2 separate regions of the Homo sapiens genome follow, and region 1 is linked to region 2. A link means that fine-mapping ties the variant in region 2 to the expression of a gene that starts in the linked region. Tissue or cell type: whole blood. Region 2 holds a variant in brackets; the other region holds the start of a gene. All regions are shown on one strand. Distances are from middle to middle.

Region 1 (5,147 bases), 150 kb after region 2:
CCTTCGCCCCACCCAGGCGCGCTGCACCCTCCGGTCCCCGTCTCTAGAGTGCACCAAGGCATCCTGCGTCCCTGCCGGAGAAAAGAGGGACGGGGCCAGAGGCCCGAGTTCCAGGGAGTTGCTGATTCCAGTGGAGAACCGAGACACCGCGTCCTTTCTAATTAATAAGCACGCCACCCCCTACCTCCAACCCCCCCCCCCGCCCCGCCTTTATTTCTTGTTGACAGCAAAGGTGGGGGACGTGGGAGAAAGGCAAGAGTTGTCTCTAGGTTCGGGATGTTGGGCTGCGCGGAGGGAAGAGGTGGGATCTCGAAATGGAAACAGTCCCCCCTTCCTCCCCCCTCCCCTCCTCCTCCTCCTCCTCCTCTTCTTCTGTTTACCTCAAGTTTGAATTTTATCTGCGCAACATTAGCTGGAATGCGGACATTGAAAAAAAAAAAAAAACACTCTCTCAGCCCGGCAGCAGCTCCGGAGGAGCCATGTGGCATCAAGCCACAGCAAAGGGGAAAAAGTGCTCTTAGCAACACAAACATGGCGAAATCGCTCTCACAAGCCGGGTTCCCGCGACAGCCCTACCTTCCCCCGCTCGCCTTCCGAACGTCCTGGCCAGGAACCGCAGACCCCTTCCGGGGGACGGCGAGGGGGCCCCGGGCTGAGCGAGGGTGGGCGCACGGGGCGTGCTAAGGGGAAATTGACTAGCCAGCCGATCAGCTCCGCCGGCAGCGGAGGGGACGCCTTCTTCACGCCCTGAGATCGCAAAGGAGAGCAAAATTCCCATCCCAAAGTCCTGCGGGACCGGCTTCCCCACCCGACGAACTTACCCCAGGGCTGAACGCACGCTGCTTTAGCTCCTTGCCTCGTTCCTTCCTCCCGGGCGCGACGCGAGGTGAAAATGATGCGCACGTAGATTTGTAGAGCGTATTCTTGAGAATTTCCCTGGGATGAATCGGGAGGAGCGGTGGAGACTCCGGAGACAGGTGCCGCGCTGGTCTGGGCTGCCGGCTAAAAGTTGTCCTCCGCGCGGTGGGCGGTGGGGTCCCCGGCCAGGGCCAAGGACCCCGGCTCCCTGCCCCCCGGCGTCGCCCACTTGTCACGCCAGGCTGCTGCGTGCACTCGGCTGCAGGGGAGGTGGCGTAGTTTCTCTTCCTCCCACCTCTTCTCACTCACTTGTTTTTGTAGCCGTGGGCTCCCCTAATGCTTTCCTCTCCACAATGTTGTTTCATTATATCATGTCCATCATGTGACACCAGAGAGGCCTCTCTATGGAAACTTAAAGGGGCTCCCACGTGACTGCAGCAGCAACAACAGCAGCAGGACTGGCGGCGGCGGCCGCAGCGGCGTCCGTACCTCCACCCACCGGGAGCCCCTCGAAGCATCCCGGAGGGGCTTCTGGCGCTGCAGGAGCCCCGATCGGGGAGCCACAGCATCCGGGAGCCGTGGTGTCTGTGCGTGCGTGGAGCCTGTGCTCATGACATAGGAAGCCGAACAGAAGGAGCGTCCTCAAATCCTTTCCTACAGTCACCAAACCCACGCTCTGTTAAAATGACATTTCGTGGCTCCTACTTTGTTTCCCCGGAGAGCAATGAGTTTTCTATCAGGCCTGATTTAGTTTGACAAAAGTCAAAAAGAAAAACTGGATTTGTCCCTCTGCGAGTTCAGTCAGATCGCTGGGAAAACAGAAATGACAAAACAATAATAACAGAAATAGAACCAGGCATTTGATACATAATTACCATCACCACGGCTTTCAAGCTTTCTGGAATTACGTTCCTCCAGTAACTGTTGATGATGCTTGCAGGAGGCAAAATGCAATGCAGTTTTTCTCTTCCGCAGCTATATTAGGGCTTTGTTGCTGACAACAGTGAAAACTTGTTTGTGTCAGGAAGTGAGGTACGGAGATATGACCTGGAAGGTACAGACAAAACCAAAGTGGCAGTTTTTGCATTACTTTTCTGACCACATTCTTTCAAATGGTGACAAGAAGGCGGTCTGCTGTAAAATTCGTGGGGTGTTTGATGGGAAACAAAATAATCAGAAAAACATAATTATCCCTAGCCATACCATACTTGCTAGACGCTAGAAAGTATACATATATGTAATCTCTGTATACATAGAGAAAGCAAAAAGCATGTGCACTTTAATATTTTTGAACCACTAATTTTGTCATCATTTGTACCATTAACAAACACTTGGAAAGACTCACTCAAGTCCAGGGATGTGTGGAAACTCACAATGTTGAGTGCTGTGGGTATTACTGACTCACAGTCCCTTAAAGGGTTTGTACCATAAATCCCAAATTTCTGCCTTAAAGTTTTTACAGACATGGAGATTTTATCCTGTAAATCTAAGCCAGATAGCTATTTCTGGGTTTTTTAGTTCATGCTTTTCCATTTTATAAAGGAAACTGTGTGGATTGGCGGAATCAAGAAAAACTTCGCAAGAAACTGAAGAGTGGGATGGAAGATCTTTTCGTTTGGCCTTGCCTTGACTCTGTCTCTCTCCACCTCATCAGTTTACTTCATCAGCCATGATGAATGAGCTCCATTCCAACCCTTCTAATTCTATAATATCTCTCCCAAGTTTTACCTTCCTATCTCATGCCTAATTCTTTTCATCCCTTTCCTCCTACCTCCCTTGCCTCCCAACTCAGCCCCTTTTCTGCCTGGGGGCTCAGCTCGGGCCTCCCCAAAGACTGTACCCCCCACCCTCCCCTGCAGCTACCCCCACCCCCACGCCCTTCCCAGCTCGGCCTCTCTTCTTTGCAACTCTACCTCCTTACCTCTTTTGACCTCTAATCACCTTCACAGTCTGGCCCTTGACTTCTGGGCCTCTTCTTACCTCTCTTTACCTGAAATGTCCTGGCCCTCACTGGGGTCTCCTCCACACCCTTCTCTCTGGTCCCATCCCTTCTGCTGCCAAGCCCCAGCGTTCCTCCGGCTCGGCCTGGTCAGCTTGAGCCTCATTTTGTTCGCGTGCCCCTGGGCTGGGAAAGGAGTGTGTGGTGCACAGTGGGGCCAAGGATCCCCTGGGGCCGCGGCCTCTGCCTCGCCCCCTCCACCCCTCCCGAGTCCCGGTTGCGGCGCTTCCTGGGCGGATGGCTTGAAATTGCTGCAGCAGCTGCGGTTCTGCTGTGTCATGCAAGAAGGAGGCGGCGGCGGCGGCGGCGGCGGCCGGAGCTGGAGGGGGAGGAGGGGAGGAACCTGATCCTCCGGTAGCGAAGGGCTAGAGGCAAACACCGAGCTCCTCCAGAGCCGCCCGGGAGCAGGGAGGGCTCCGCTAGCCCGGGGGGCCCTCCCCGCGGGGCAGATGGTAAGTGGGGCGGTGCAGGTGGTCGCCTTGGGAAGGGAGCGCGCAGGGGGGTAAGGTGGGGCGGCGGGAAGTGCTAGAAGTCACCCCAGCCAAACTGAAGGAGCCCAGTTTCCAGCTGAGAGGGACCCAGGCCGTAATAAGGATGTCCAGCCAAACGCAGCAATAATTACTATTGGAGTGACGCCCCGAAGTTGACCCCAAGCTACACAGAGGGTGGAGTGGTGCATCCTGAACCCAGGACAGAGCTGGAGGCAATGATTCAGGGTTTGAGAAGTATCAGCCCATCGGCCTGGCGCTTTAAGGTGCAGCTGAGTAGGAAAAGCCAACCCACATCATATTCCCAGAGCCTTGCTGCGCTTTCTGGGTTGTCTTGTTCAAAACTAGTGAAAGGGATGGGAAACCTGCCCAACCTCACTTTAGCCACGAAAATAATGCTCTTGGCCAGTGGCCTTGGACAAACAGCCTCTGGTGCAACAAAACAATCAATAGGAAGAAGAACTTCATTCCCCTCACCATCCTCCTTCCCCAAGTTCCTTTGACCAGCATACCTCATTCGGCTTAAAGGAGAAAGAAAACTATGTGTGACATTCCCTCCCAGCCTACCTGCAGCCAGCCTCCTCACCACACAAACTGCCCATCCCGCTTCTCTCCTCATCTTCAGAGCCATGATTCCAAGAGACATTGCAATACTACTCACTTTAGGTGAGAAGACTGCCTGAAACTCTGAACAATTTCACCTCCCTTGCCCTTTGCCACAGGGGATTCAGAAACCTACAACTGAGAGCAGGGAAATATACGGACAGGCTTGGCACGTAGGAACATTACTTCCTTCACTGGAGTGTAGTTCTCCAGACAACTTTTTAATTATGATTATTCCCTTCCATTGCACTCCTGGAAATTTCAAAGCACTTTCTAAAACATCATTTTTTTTATGTCAGTCATACATTTAGAGGTAAGGGGTTGATGGGATTAACTGAAAGGCTAATGACTGTCTCAAAAGCACATGCTGTTGCTAGGGAACCCAAGCTCCTGCTGCTCTCTAATCACCAGCGTGTTCCGTGGAAATCAAACTGCTCAGGGTGTTATTAAAATGAATGGCATCGGGTTAAAGGCATTCTTGCTTATGTTGTAGCATCCTGGATTATTATCGATTGCCTCACACCCACATATCTTGTTTTCCTAATTTGATTTCTGTATTTGCGTCACTGCCAGGGACACTCAGACTAGACCAGTCAGTTCACTTCCTGTTTCTCAGAACTGGTTTATATTTGGTCTCGTAGCACTAGCTGGTAAAACATTATCAAACTGATCCTCTTGGAAAGAAATCTTTGCTTCCCATTGAAAACAAAATATTCCAATTAAATTGTAATTCCTGTGGAAAACGTCATCATTTGAGGAGTAGACTGCCAGTTGCCATTTGAGAAACAATCCTTGAAATGTAAAGCCTAGAAAAAAAAAACATCATCTTGATTTCTTTTACCCAGAATCTTCATTCCTCAGCACTAGAACTAAGACAAACTCGAGTAAAGAGTAGATTTAAGTATACTTCTAAAATGAAACGCATAAATAAATAAATAAATAAATAAATAAATACATGTCGAAGCTGGGGAAATCATTTAGACTAAACAAGGCATAAAATTGAATGGAATCCAGGCCCAGGAAGGACAAGTAATTTTGGGTTAGCATTGTGGCATTCGGAGAACACAGTGTGACTACAAGGCTACACTACAAATAGGAAACCCCATCACTTTGTGTACTAATTGTCTTTTTTACCAATTCCTCTATGTCCCTGGACAAGACAACCTTGTTTTGTTTTGTTTGTTTTCAGTTCCTTCCTC
Region 2 (5,147 bases):
TTGGAACTTCTGGAGGCTTCAGCAGGGTTAGCTTCAAAAAACAAGCAAAAAATGCCTCCCACCACATACAGCTTCTATCAGTGATCTTTGACATAAATGTTTCACGATATAGAAGTTAAAGAGTATGCCAGTCACTTGAGGGTTGACCAATGTGAACTGTTATTTCCTAGACTTGAGTACATGCCGCATGTGGTCTATATAAACATTCTTTAAGTTCCTTTGAAATAGACCCACACATATATGGAAAACTGATTTTCAAGAAAGGCGCCAAAGCAATTCAATGGAAAAAGGAAAGTCTTTCCAACAATCCATGTTAGAACAACTGGGAAAATGTATGCAAAAATATGAACCTTGACTTCTACTTAACCCCATATATAAAAATCAACTGGAGATAGATCATAAACTAAAGCATAAAAGCTAAAGCTATAAGTCTTCTAACAGAAGGCACAGAGAAATATCTGCACAATCCTGGGGAGGCAGATTACTTAGGAAACAAAAAATACAGATAATATAGAAATCTTTGTTTTAATTTTTAAAAATATATTTTATTTTTTTGTAGAGAGTTGAGGTCTTGCTATGTTACCTAAGCTGCTCTCAAACTCCTGGGCTCAAGCGATCTTCCCCTGCCTTGGCCTCGCAAAGGAAAAACATTTTTGATCAATGAAATTATTTCAAAGTTAAAACCTTCTGCTCATCAAAAGACACTTTTAAAAAACAGCAGGTAGACCATAGACTGGCAAAATATTTGCATTATAAACTTCTGACAAGAATATTTTATTCAGAATATGTATAACATTCCTACCAACCAAAATAATAAGACAATCCAATTTTAAAACAGGCAAAAGAAAAACAGACTCAAACGACTTGAACAGACACTTCAAAAGGGAAGATACACAAATGGCCAATAAGTATATGTGATTCATCTAGAAAATGCAAATTGAAAACTACAATGAGATACTACTTCATATCCAAGAGAACGACTATAAGTAGAAAAACCAGCAATATACAATGTTAAGATACCTGGTCACCTGGAACTTTCATAAATTGCTTGTTGGAGTGTAAAATGGTACGATTACTTTGGAAAATGACTTGGCAGTTTCTTACAGAGGTACACATACACCTAGTGTACGGTGCAGCAATTAAACCTAAAAAAGAGTGAGAGTGGGCCAGGTGTGGTGGCTCACGCCTGTAATCCCAGCACTTTGAGAGGCCGAGGCTGGTGGATCATTTGAGGTCAGGAGTTTGAGACTAGCCTGGCCAACATGGTGAAAGCCCATCTCTACTAAAATTTTAAAAATTAGCCAGGTGTGGTGGTGCGTGCCTGTAGTCCCAGCTACTCAGAAGGCTGAGGCAGGAGAATCGCTTAAGCCTGGGAGGTAGAGGTTGCAGTGAGCTGAGATTGCCCCACTGCAGCTCAGCCTGGGTGACACAGTGGGACTGTCTCAAAATAAAAAATAAAAAAAGAAAGAAAAGAAAAAGAGTGAGAGTGAGAGAAAACTCATTCACAGCAGCTTAATATTCATAGTAGCCAAAAATGGGGAAATAATCAATATGTCAGTCAACAAGAGAACAGAGTTTAAAATTGGGTCTATTCATACAATGGAATACCACCCAGCAATAAAGGAAGAATGATACAGACAACTATATAAAACTGTTGCGTGAAAAAAAAAGCCAGACGCAAAAGAGTATATACTGCATGATTCCATTTAGAGGAAGCTCAAGAACAAGACTGCAATGATAGAAAGCAGAAAGTTTTTGCCAGTGAGGGTGGCGAATGACTGAATGGGGCAAGAGGAAACCTGGTGATAGAAACGTTCTCTCTCTTAACTGGGGTCTGGGAACAGGAGTACACTGAATGTCTGTGCATTTCAATGCATGTAAATTTTACATCAATTAAAATGGAGGGATGGTAGGATTTCCTTAATTGTCTTGACATCCCCATGTCCTCCTGAAGAATGCAATTTGATTCGCACACTTAGATCCCATCAAATGGTGCCTGTATCTGGATTACTTCAGTTCACAACTAGCCATGGCTCTCTCTTCTCTGGGGGACCATCCATACAAGGTATTTCCTCCAGAGGAAAAGAAAGAATTTGCTGGTTCTCCTCTCATTCAACAGTAATAGCCAACCAATAGGCCAGGTCCCAGAACCAGTGTGGGAGTGTTCTACATTCTTGCAGTCACAGAATGTTTTTTTTAGGCCCACCATTTTTCAGCAGACATCTGACAATCCACACTCAGAAACATTCTTCATCTCTAGGAAGTTATGCGAAATAGGTGGGAGAAACAAGGTGTGGAAAGGGGGTGTTTGGCATAGGCTGATGATAGATGTTCTGGTCAATACCAGGAATAAAATCCCAAGTGTGTTCTGCTTGCCTGGGAGCTCACACCCTCAGAGCTAAGTAGATTTCACTACTCTCCATCTCTGCTTCCAAGGGCATGGCCTCAGAGGACTTGCTCTTTGATCTAGAACTGTACAGGAGGCTCTAAGCTGGTAAACAACTTACAGGGGTACAGAGGTCAGATAGGAGAAGGCCCTTATGACCCTTACTATCTTCAACTGTCTCTAAGCAGCTACATTAAAAATAGCTAACATCCATCACTATTACTTTGCAAATTTTAGAGATAGATTTTAGCCTCCTAGTATTGTGCTAGAAATGAGGCTAGGCCTGAGAAGAACCTAAAGCTTCCATCATGTTGCAGTAATTGGCCCTAACTGTGGAATACCTCTGAGAAAGATCTCCAGGGATTTTTCACAAAGAAACTGCTTTCTAAGTAAAAGGAGGGAAGCATGAGATGGAAACATCAATTCAGGCTTTCTTCTGACACAAACGGACACCACTTGTGTCACAAAAGTTAAAGAACTAGTCAACATCTTACTTTTCCCATCTTCACAGTGTCTGCTGACACTTTCAGGACCGACCTGACGAACATGACAAAGGGATAATTAACAAGGGTTTGGAGATTTTTTCCACAAAGGAGATGGGAAAAGAGAATGTGAATTGCTTCTTATAAG[G/A]AAAAGAAGAGGGAGTATGAGGGTCTATAGCCCAAGAAATAAATAGTACAGAAGGGAAGAATAGGAAATTCTCTCAGAAGCTCTTATGCTAAAGGGCAGGGAAGAAATCAAGCAAGCGTATCCACATTTAATTTGTATTAAGATCAGGAACAAGTACCACTACTTAAAGATTTTTTTAAATGACTAAGTTGGATGTTTTACAAGATGCAACTTTCTTCTAGCAACAAAGCTAAAAGATCCTCTTATGGGGCTCTATGATTAATGGCTATGTCTTTACTGGCTGGAAAGTGTATCTTTGTATAATAGTGTCAGCCCACTGTTTCCTCCCAATCCAGTAATTGTGAGGGTTTGTTTTCCCAAGCCCCAGTACCCACTGCAGTCATCATGCTCCATCTAATCTTTTTCCTGGCTAAATGCCTGACTAAAGGTATTTCCAATTTACTTGTTCAGATATATTTCTGACAAATCAACAAATGAAAGTACTTCTCCTTTCATGATGGCGGTCAGGGCGCCTGGAAGACCCCACTACGGTTATAAAAGGGGTATGTAGACCCACAACAACAACAAGTTTCAGGGGCCTGAGAGATTTCACCAAATGTCAGGAAGCCAGAAGGATGTGGGGAGAGCACTGAGCGATGAAGCTGAGCAGAGGCAGCTTACAGCCCGGAGAGTTCTGAGCGGGTACTGCCAAGGCAGTGAAGAGTTGATTTTATTCAGATGGACCCCAAACAGGCTCCAGACTCAGGAAAAGTAAGAACTGTGACAGAAGTGACAAGAAAGGTAGAAAGGAGAAGAGTAATTGAAAAGTCTGGAAATAACAATTATTCTTTTCATGACTACTTCCTGTCTTTATAAAAAAAAACCTTATAGCTTCCCCACTTCAGAGCAAAAATAAGAAAAGGGAGATAATTTTCTAAAAAAAATTAAACAAACGTCTGGTGAAGACTAAATAGCTAGTGTGGTTAAGAGAACCCCACAGTCAAGCCCTCCTCATTCTGACATCTAGCAGTTCCCCAGCAAGAGGGCTCAGGGTGGCTCTGTGTACCCAGGCTGAAGCCTGCTAGAGGCAGATGCTGTCATGCAGAACTTCTAGGCAGCCGTAATGGCACTTCATTTTTAAAAAGAAAATCAAATATATATTTTAAAAGTCTGCAACATGAAAGAGAAAAACCAAGATAAACAACAATAACAAAAAAGAAACAGAATATTTAAGAAAAAGATTTTTTTCTAAAAAAACTAAAAAAAAACCCCCAATTTATTAGTATTCCTGGAAATATTTGAGAATTACATCAACATAACAACAACAACAACAACAAAAAAGAACTACAAGAAAAAGCTCTATGAAATTAAAAATGCAAGCCTCAAATAACAATAGGGAACACTATGTGTGCACATGCTTGAGTAACTTAACCTCACACTTGTACTTCTTTTTTCCTTTTTTTCTTTTCTTTTTTTTTTCCTGAGACACAGTCTCATTCTGTCGCCCAGGCTGGAGTGCAGTAGCGTGATCTCAGCTCACTGCAACCTCTGCCTCCCAGGTTCAAGCAATTTTCCTTTCTCAGTCTCCCAAGTAGCTGGGATTACAGGTGTGCACCACCACGTGCAGCTAACTTTTGTATTTTTAGTAGGAATGGGTTTTTGCCATGTTGGCCAGGCTGGTCTCAAACTCCTGACCTCAAGTGCTCCACCCACCTCAGACTCCCAAAGTGTTGGGATTACAGGCGTGAAACACCACACCCAGCCTTTGTATTTCTGATTTAATCTACCATATAGACAATACCTTACCTAGAATGTGTTATATTTTACAGTACTGTCAACAGTTTGTAATGGCATATGTGGACTATGTTCATGACAAAGGGACAGTGCCACCATGTCCACTGTTCAAGAAAACCTGAGTCTGTTTTTAACTCCTCTGCAAGTTTACAGTTTACTTCTCTCAATACCTGCTCATCTTTTCTACAGAAGGGGAGTAACCAAAAGTCACAGGTTTTTTTTGTTTTCGTTTTGTTTTTTTGAGACAGAGTATCACTCTGTCACCCAGGCTGGAGTGCAGTGGTACAATCTCGGCTCACTGAAACCTCTGTCTCCCAGGTTCATGCAATTCTCCTGCCTCAGCCTCCTGAGTAGCTGG

Evidence for each region. PIP is the estimated chance that this variant, and not a neighbour inherited with it, causes the effect.
Region 1: it holds the start of LINC-PINT, and the variant in region 2 is fine-mapped to the expression of LINC-PINT in whole blood (INTERVAL, PIP 0.92).

Annotation. Positions count from the first base shown.
Region 1 is chr7:131,106,899-131,112,045 of GRCh38, forward strand. It overlaps LINC-PINT (long intergenic non-protein coding RNA, p53 induced transcript), which reads right to left and starts at 3,027. Exons shown (of 8, transcript NR_170176.1): 1 at 2,839-3,027; 2 at 822-1,905. It also overlaps a transcript of MKLN1 not described here. RefSeq lists silencers at 916-965, 986-1,045, 3,103-3,152, 3,233-3,382, 4,533-4,592 and enhancers at 1,028-1,879, 4,274-4,815.
Region 2 is chr7:130,953,292-130,958,438 of GRCh38, forward strand. The region is part of intron 5 of LINC-PINT (long intergenic non-protein coding RNA, p53 induced transcript); the gene reads right to left. Among named protein-coding and RNA genes, the nearest start is that of LINC00513, 42 kb to the left of the region's middle. RefSeq lists a silencer at 3,977-4,026 and an enhancer at 4,828-4,887. The variant G/A (reference allele first, on the strand shown) is at 3,017.